Linked DNA regions of Homo sapiens: all the other regions are linked to region 1. The links come from fine-mapping of genetic effects on plasma protein levels. A gene starts in region 1. Each other region holds a variant in brackets. All regions are shown on one strand. Distances are between the middles of the regions. Region 1 holds the start of BPIFB2 (BPI fold containing family B member 2). Region 2 overlaps COMMD7 (COMM domain containing 7). Region 3 overlaps SUN5 (Sad1 and UNC84 domain containing 5).

The links. PIP is the chance, under the fine-mapping model, that this variant and not a neighbour inherited with it causes the effect. The UK Biobank Pharma Proteomics Project read protein levels with antibody pairs (Olink). The fine-mapping took linkage between variants from a reference panel, not from the people measured, so its PIPs are less certain.
Region 2: its variant is fine-mapped to the plasma level of the BPIFB2 protein (UK Biobank, PIP above 0.99).
Region 3: its variant is fine-mapped to the plasma level of the BPIFB2 protein (UK Biobank, PIP above 0.99).

Annotation. Positions count from the first base shown.
Region 1 is chr20:33,006,482-33,009,330 of GRCh38, forward strand. BPIFB2 (BPI fold containing family B member 2) reads left to right here and starts at 1,223. Exons shown (of 16, transcript NM_025227.3): 1 at 1,223-1,279; 2 at 2,060-2,202. The coding sequence starts at 2,094. RefSeq lists enhancers at 608-1,603, 1,604-2,598.
Region 2 is chr20:32,740,861-32,743,360 of GRCh38, forward strand. It overlaps COMMD7 (COMM domain containing 7), which reads right to left. Exons shown (of 9, transcript NM_053041.3): 1 at 2,448-2,500. Among named protein-coding and RNA genes, the nearest start is that of COMMD7, 1.4 kb to the right of the region's middle. RefSeq lists enhancers at 272-773, 1,443-2,270 and silencers at 1,224-1,398, 2,383-2,452. The variant C/T (reference allele first, on the strand shown) is at 1,449.
Region 3 is chr20:32,993,176-32,996,024 of GRCh38, forward strand. SUN5 (Sad1 and UNC84 domain containing 5) reads right to left here. Exons shown (of 13, transcript NM_080675.4): 8 at 2,444-2,552. Among named protein-coding and RNA genes, the nearest start is that of SUN5, 9.8 kb to the right of the region's middle. The variant T/C (reference allele first, on the strand shown) is at 1,463.

The DNA of each region.
Region 1 (2,849 bases):
GCCTGGGAGCTGGGCCTGATATTTGGGCTGGTGTGGGGTCAGTGGGAGTCAAAGAGTGCCCTGGAGTTGGGGAAAGGCCCCAAGTCATCCTGTGCCAATGAAGAAAAATGGAAAGGCCATCGCCTGCTGTGCACACATATATGCACACACACAAGAACATATATACATGTACCTCCCCATCCCAGGAAACAGTCCACTTGCATACACACATGCACCTAACACCACACACTCACAGACCCACAAACACTCAGTAGGCCAAGCCCACACATGCATACATGTACACAAAACTCCCCACCTCTGTGGTCCTGTTGGATTGTGTGAATAGACACACAACACCATAAACCAAGATGCCAACGTGCCCATTTCATGTCCACACTCACACATAAGAGCACACATTTTCCCCGTACATGTGACTATGCACACACACTCACATGCATGTATCAACACAACCCTCATCCACACATGTGCATATGCAAATTCCTTCATGCGCACACACAGTTCCTTGGGTCCCATCCAGCCAAGGCGGAGGCTGACGTTTGTAATGTGGAAAGAGACCGTGGACTAATCCATTGTGAGTGGAATGTGCATTTGGAGAGAGGCTGGGATGTTAAGCTGTGGGGACAGGTCACGCACACTTTCTCTTCTGTTCCCTTCTGAGTTAGGGCTCAGTTTGTGACTGGGATCAGGGCTCAGCATGTGATCAGGGTCAGAGCTCAGTAACTGGGGTCAGGACTCAGTGTGTGAATATGTGACAGGGTCAGGGCTCAGTCAATGACTGAGGATGGTGCTCAGGTAGCCTTCTGCCCCTCCTAAAAGGGTCATGTTTCCGAGAGAGCTTGGAGGTACCAGGCTTGAGGGGTCATTGCAGCCATCCCCTTGCCTATGGGAGGGGGGATGGGGTCCTCATGGGCCCCATCCTCCCAGGCCTTGGCTGGGCATGATAAGATACCCTCCTAGAAGCAGCTTTCCTTCCAGAGATCTCCTGGCCCTCACTAAGGCCATAGCTGCCTAGCCCCAGGGGCTTGTAGTGGTTGGGAGCTGGGCCTGGCTACTGGCTACGTGGCAGCCCCAGCGCACATGTGGGATGAGACACTTTGGCAAAGGCCATGTTTGCAGGGAAAACACTTGCAACCACAAGCAAACTCGCCGCTCCCTGGGTCCCTTCCCAGTGGACTCTGCACATTGGGAGCCTTATAAAGTAGCCTCTGCATCTGCCTGCCTCGGGCAGAGGAGGGCTACCCTGGGGCTGAGAGTTCACCTGTCTCAGGAACCACCTGAGGTAGGCATGGGGCTGGGCTGGTACACCACTTCCAAGGAGGCTTGGCTTCTCTATCTGTTCAGTGGGGATGCTACCTCCAGCCACCCTCTGCAGAAGGGTCCTTCCACCCCTGGCCTTGCTGTAGGACCTGGGCAAGTGCCGCCATCCTGGGTCTCAGCAGACCCACCTGAGCCGCAGTCCCTCACTCCTGCCTGGCTCCCTCTCCCTGAGTCAGACACAGATCTGCCTATTTGGCCAGACTGAGTCAGGAGAGGATGGGGGCCATGTGAGAGGCCTACTCTTAGGCCATTTACCACCTGGCCAGGAGGGGATGAGGACAGGAGCCACCCTGGGTCCTCCCCTGGCTGAATTTGGTGGACAGCTGGACACCAAGCTGGCTGTCACACGGGGCTGGACTCCGGCATCAGGTGATACAGTCCTGGGCATCTTCTTGGGACAGGAAACTACCCTCAGTCTCCCCGTTTGGGAGTCTCACCATCCTTCTATGCCATGGCTTGGGTCCTGCACCTGGTCCCAGTCCACTGTGTGGCCCTAGGCAAGACCATTTCTTCTCTGGGCATTGCGGGTCATTTCCAGAAGGGACTCCCCCATGATTCCTGATGAAGCAAGCAAGGCAAGGTGATGGTTCCCAATGCAGAGATGCAAAAACTGATGTCTGTGGGCCTGGGGCAGGGCTGGGATCACCAGTCAGGGCTTGTTCCCTCCAGGCTGGAGTGGGGTTCGGGTGGCTCAGGGGTGGGCTGTTTTGGCTGAGCTCCCTGATGCTCATTTCTACCCCAGCCCACAGATCCTGTGGGCAGCGGCCAGGGCAGCCATGGCTTGGGCAAGTAGGCTGGGCCTGCTGCTGGCACTGCTGCTGCCCGTGGTCGGTGCCTCCACGCCAGGCACCGTGGTCCGACTCAACAAGGCAGCATTGAGCTACGGTAAGCGGTGTGTTACCCAGTGAGTGTCTGTGAGCCTGTACATGCGTGTGCAATCCTAAGTGTGTGTGCGTAGCTGTGAACTCAAAAGGCCCATGAGGACCCAGATTTTAATTGGAAGTTGTGTCCCTGGCACCCAGACAGTGCCTGACACATGGCGCTGCTCAACAAATGCTTATTACATAAATGCGTGAGGGGGGAGTACGTCATGTGGCCAGTGTGCAAGTGTGCACATGTGACTTGCTCACATGCTTTGGTGATGTGGGCATAGGTCGGTTTGAGGGGCTATTTTTACCTGTGTGTGTCTACTTATGAGTTTGAAATTTCATAGAGCTGTGCCCACGTGTGTACTTAAGTGTCGGGGAGGGTGCAAGCCCATGATGCTGCCTGGATGTGTGTGCACAGGTACGGCTGTTCACCCTGGGTGTACACGTTTGCGTATGTGGTGTGTGCACGCACGTGTGTTCTTGGGAGAGGTCTGTCTAGCACCGTGATGCAAGGAGTGTTCTAAAGTTATATCCCTTCTGAGCTCAGCGTGAGAGAACCATCCGCTCTCTGGGTCCCACTTGTGCGAGGGCTCTGTCTTACGGCTGTGCTGCTAGATCCTTCCAAGTCTTGCCCCAATCCCCTAAGGAGGGCACAATGAAGAA
Region 2 (2,500 bases), 270 kb before region 1:
TGGCAGGGTGCATGGCTTACGCCTGTAATCCCAGCACTTTGGGAGGTTGAGGCAGGCAGATCACTTGAGGTCAGGAGTTCGTGACCAGCCTGGCCAACATGGTGAAACGCTGTCTCTACTAAAAATACAAAAATTAGCCAGGCATGGTGGTGCACGCCTGTAGTCCCAGCTACTTGGGAGCCTGAGGCAAAAGAATCACTTGAGCCCAGGAGGTGAAGTTTGCAGTGAGCCAAGATCACGCCACTGCACTCCAGCCTGGGTGACAGAGGAAGACTCCGTCTAAAACAAACAAACAAACAAAAAAAAACTGACAGTAGGCTAAGGTCAACTTATCAAAAACAGAAAAAAAAAAATTTTTTTTTAGGGATGGGGGTCTCACTATGCTGCCCAGGCTGGAGTGCAATGGCTATTCACAGGTGGAATCACCATGCACTACAGCCTTGAAATCCTGGGCTCAAGTGATCCTCCTGTCTCAGCCTCCCAAGTAGCTGGGACTACTGTGGTAGCTGTGCCACCGTACCCAACTAGAAAGTTGTTTTTTTTTTTTTGAGATGAAGTCTCACTCTATTGCCCAGGCTGGAATGCAGTGGTGCAATCGCAGCTTACTGCAACCTCCACCTCTCAGGTTCAGGCGATTCTCCTGCCTTAGCCTCCAGAGTAGCCGGGACTACAAGTGCCCGCCACTACACCCAGCTAATTTTTGTATTTTTAGTAGAGACAGGGTTTCATCATGTTGGCCAGGATGGTCTCGATCTCCTGACCTTGTGATCCGCCCACCTTGGCCTCCCAAAGTCCTAGGGTAGGTGTGAGCCACCGTGCCCGGCCTATTTTTTATCTTTTATACTGTATTTGTACTGTACCTTTTCTATTTAGATTTGTCTAAACACACAAATATTTACCATTATAGTCCAGTTGCCTATGGTATTCAGTACAGTCACATGCTGTATAGGTTTGTAGCCTAGGAGCAATGCGCTATACCATATATCCTAGGGTGCAGTAGGTTTGTGTAAATAAACTCTAGGATGCTTGCATAAGATAAACTCAGGGCTGGGCACAGTGGCTCACGCCTGTAATCCCAACACTCTGGGAGGCTGAGGTGGGCAGATCACCTGAGGTCAGGTGTTCAAGACCAGCCTGGCCAACATGGTCAAACCCCATCTCTACTAAAAATACAAAAATTAGCTGGGCATGGTGGCGTGTGCCTGTAGTCCCAGTTACTCGGGAGACTGAGACAGAGAACTGGTTGAACCTGGGAGGCGGAGGTTGCAGTGACCCGAGATCGCGCCACTGCACTCCAGCCTGGGTGACAGAATGAGACTACGTCTCAAAAAAAAAAAATTAATTTCCATTTCTATTTAATTTTTAAATGTGGCTACTACAAAATGCAAAGTTAGAAATGTGGCTTGCAAATTTTTCTATTGCATAGCTCAAGCTTAGAACCTTCCTGT[C/T]GTTACAAGTTCTAAGTTTGGTTTTTATCTCGCAAGCAGCACTACTGTGTGGGAAGTTGTGGGGGGTATGGAGATGAAAGAAGAGGGGCGCTACCTCCTGGGAAGTGACAACCTAGCGGGGGAAATAGATGTATCTTCCCAGTGGGGGTGAGAAGTGTCATTCTCACCTATTTCAGCAGCCTTGGTGGTATGAAAAGGCATCCCAACCAGCACAGAAGCAGGATGCCTCCAAGACTGCCTTGGTTGGCACCTGCAGCCTGAAGGGGGAGAAAAAGGCTTTGCTAGCTCCCCTACCATCGAGGATGAAGACCCCCACTGTACACAGTGTATAAGGTTTCTTTCCATGTGAATCCCAGTGACTCTCCTTAACTGGGTGGAGGTGGAAGGTGTCATCAGCCTTGTCCCAGATCGAGCCCCTCAGGCCCACAGAGCCCCAGTGGGGCCTGGCTATTACTGACACTCATGTCACACTGAGATGTAAGACGGCAGCCCAGGCCAAGCTTCCCCGGGCCCCCTCAGATTCTCGGGCCCTCCCACTCCCCTCAGGCTTCCTCGGCCTCCCTGCCAAACATCTATCTCCCTTTGGACCCCACTGCTCCCCAAAACTCCCCACGCCCTTAGTCTGTTCCTTCAGTTCCCCAAACTCCTTCAGCCTCATCTAGACTCCCCTCCGTCCCTCTTCTAGGACCCCAAAAGCTCTCCTCGGCCCCAGGACCCCGCAGAGGTCCCGTAGTCCCATCTCTGAGACCCCACAAAGCCTTTCGGACCCCTCAGGTGGCCCTTAGGCCTCCGGAGATCCCTTGGCTCCCCACACTCTCCTCAGACCCCAGCTCACCTTAGCCTCGCCCCGAACCCACCTCACACACCCCAAACGCCCACAAGACGCCGCTCTGTCTAGTCTCTCCCAACTCCCGCGCACCCCCGGACGTCCCCCCCACCCCAGGCCCGGATCCTGGAATCACCTGGGCCCCGCGCCCCACGCCCCGCCGCCGGGCCCACCTGCGCGCCCAGCTGGTTCAGCTGCTGCATGTCGCCGCCCACGGCCTCCGGCA
Region 3 (2,849 bases), 13 kb before region 1:
CAATTTAGTCACATGAATAAATAACATTTCTTAGGCCCAAAGGCCAGGAGTTTCCAGATTGACGGATTCCAAAGGGTGGCCAGCCCATAGGCACATCTGTGGAAGCAACAAGGACCAGATGAACTAAAATTCTGCAGAGCAGAAAACCATTCTGAGATGTGCTGGCATTTTTTGTCCGTTTGTTTTAAATCTCTGGGGGTATTTGACGATTCTAGGCATAGGCTAAGGATCTGGGCTTAGGCCAGACAATGGGCTGCTGCTACTGGTGAAAGAGAAGGAAGCAAAGTTCTTAATGGTGACAAAGAGCTAAAGTAACAAAACTGGGGACTTGAGGAGCCTCAAATATGGCCACTTTTCTTCACAAGGTATTAACTGAATTTCAAGACTATAGGAGGCTATAGGCCACTTCAAACATTTCTGAAAAGCAGAATAAAACTTCATATCTTCACAGTGCTTAGGAAACGAAGTCCCTTTGAGGGAGGGCACCGCAAAACACAACAAGCAAGAGATCAAGGCCTTAGAACAGTGATTCTCTCTGGTATATGTCAGAACCACCTGGAAGGCTTGCTGGAACACAGATGATTGGTTTGCATCTTCAGAGCCTCTGATTCAGAAGGTCTGAGTGAGGCCTATTAATTCGAATTGTTAACATTTTCCCAGGTGATACTGATGATGCAGGCACGTGGGCCGTGGGCCGTACTTTGAGATCCATTACCCTAGAAGGGGTGGTGATGAGTCAATACTGTGCTTCAGCTGCACTTCACCTGGGGGCACTAAATCAATCCTGGGCACAATTAGAACCCAGGAATCCAAGTTTGCTCCTGGCGGAGAAGGCTGCCACCAGGCCCAGAGATTTTTGCGTTCATGCAGGGGTGAGAGACACATTTGGAGACTTGTGAGGCCTCAAACATACAGTAAGTCTGCCACTAAGACAGTTGTCAAATTTTTGAAGCTGCATGGGAAGGAGTCTAAAGAGTTAAGCTTAAAACCTCTGGATAAATTTTTTTAAAATTGTGATCCAGGTCTGTCTGAACTAGCTTAGTGCATGTCTAGATAGAAGTGACCAGTCTATTTCATCCTCCTTATAAAGAAAAGGGGAACTTTCTCTAGTGGAATTATAATTATTTGGAACAGCTACAGTTCTTTTGTATACAATGTTGAGAAACCACTAAAAGTTACTAGACTTGAAGAGGCAAGACCATATCATTGATACCCAAGATAAAAAGCAGAAAACAGAGGGAGGCCACAGATGATCCAGACATTGGAGTTAGCAGACAAGGATTTTTAAAATAACTGTTGCTAATGTGTTAATTAAAATAAAGGAAAAGATGGACAACATAGGTGAAATGTTGGGGAATTTCACCACAGAATTAAAGTCTGTGAAAAAAATCAAATGTATATCCTAGAACTAAACAATGCAGTATCTGAAATTAAGAACTAAGGCTGGATGCAGTGGCTCACG[T/C]CTGTAATCTTAGCACTTTAGGAGGCTGAGGCAGGTGGATCACTTGAGGTCAGGAGTTCAAGACCAGCCAAGTCGACATGGTGAAACCCTGTCTCCACTAAAAATATAAAAATTAGCTGAGCGTGGTAATGTGCACCTGCAATCCCAGCTACTCAGGTGTAGGATGCACTTGAACCCAGGAGGCAGAGGTTGCAGTGAGCTGCCTGGGCGACAGAGGGAGACTCCATTAAAAAAACAAAAAGAACTAAATGCATGGATTTAATAATAAATTGGAGAGACAGAATGATGCAAGATTATTAGTAAACCTGAAGAAAGGTTAATAGGAAAATATCAAAACATAAGCACATAACAGAAAAAGAATGAAAAAACAAACCAGGTAATAGCGTAGGAATCACATAAAGCACTCTAAAGGCTTTCAAAGCATAGGCCTAGCATAGGTGTAATTAGAATCCAAGGAAAGGAGACAGATAATGGAAAGAAGAAATATTTTAAGAGATAAAAGGTAAAAGTTTCCCAAAACTATTGAAAAATATCAACCCACAGATTTAATAAGCTCGGCAAACCACAAACCAGGTTATATGAGGAACATTAGAGACAAAAAGATTTTTCTACAAGCTCCCAGGGATAAAAAATAGATCATACTCAAAGGATCAATAATAAGAGTGCCATTAGACTTCTCATTAGCAACAGTATAAACTATAATAGAGTGGTGGGCTTCCTTCAACATTCTCAGGAGAAACTATTTCATATTTAGAATTCTGTACCCAGCCAAACTATCAACCAAGTACAAGGATAGAAAAAGATGCTTTTAAACATACAAGCACTAAAAATATACTTCTTTCACTGTATTCCTGAAAGTCACTGGGGGATGTGCTCCCTCAAAATGAGAGATAAAACCAAGAAAGAACACTTGAGGTATAGGAAACAGGACATCAAACAAAGAGAAATTAGATGTTTGGGGCAGAATGGCCAGCGTCTCACCTCATCGGACATGGCTTCCATCTCCTGGAGCTTGGCAATGAGCTGGTTCATGCTACCTCGGAGGTCCTGGATTTCCCCACTGTGATGTCGCACCTTCTCCTGGTACAACCTTATCAGGAAGGAGTGATAACAAGAACAGGTTGATTTGTGATGCGTTGTTGTTACCCTCAGATTTTCCCTTTGCTAGTTGGCTCTCAAAGAATGAGTTTCAGATTTTCCTAATCTCTTGGGCCCATCCCTGGACCCATTCATCAGGTTATTATCTCTAAAACATTACTCATTCTCTTCTTTCTGCTTGGAATATCTTTATACCCAGCTCATTCCTTCCAAATATTCCTGAGTATTTTGTCTGCAATTAAGGATGCTGCCATCAGGTGGTGTCTTGGTTAAAATTTCTTCTCAGCTA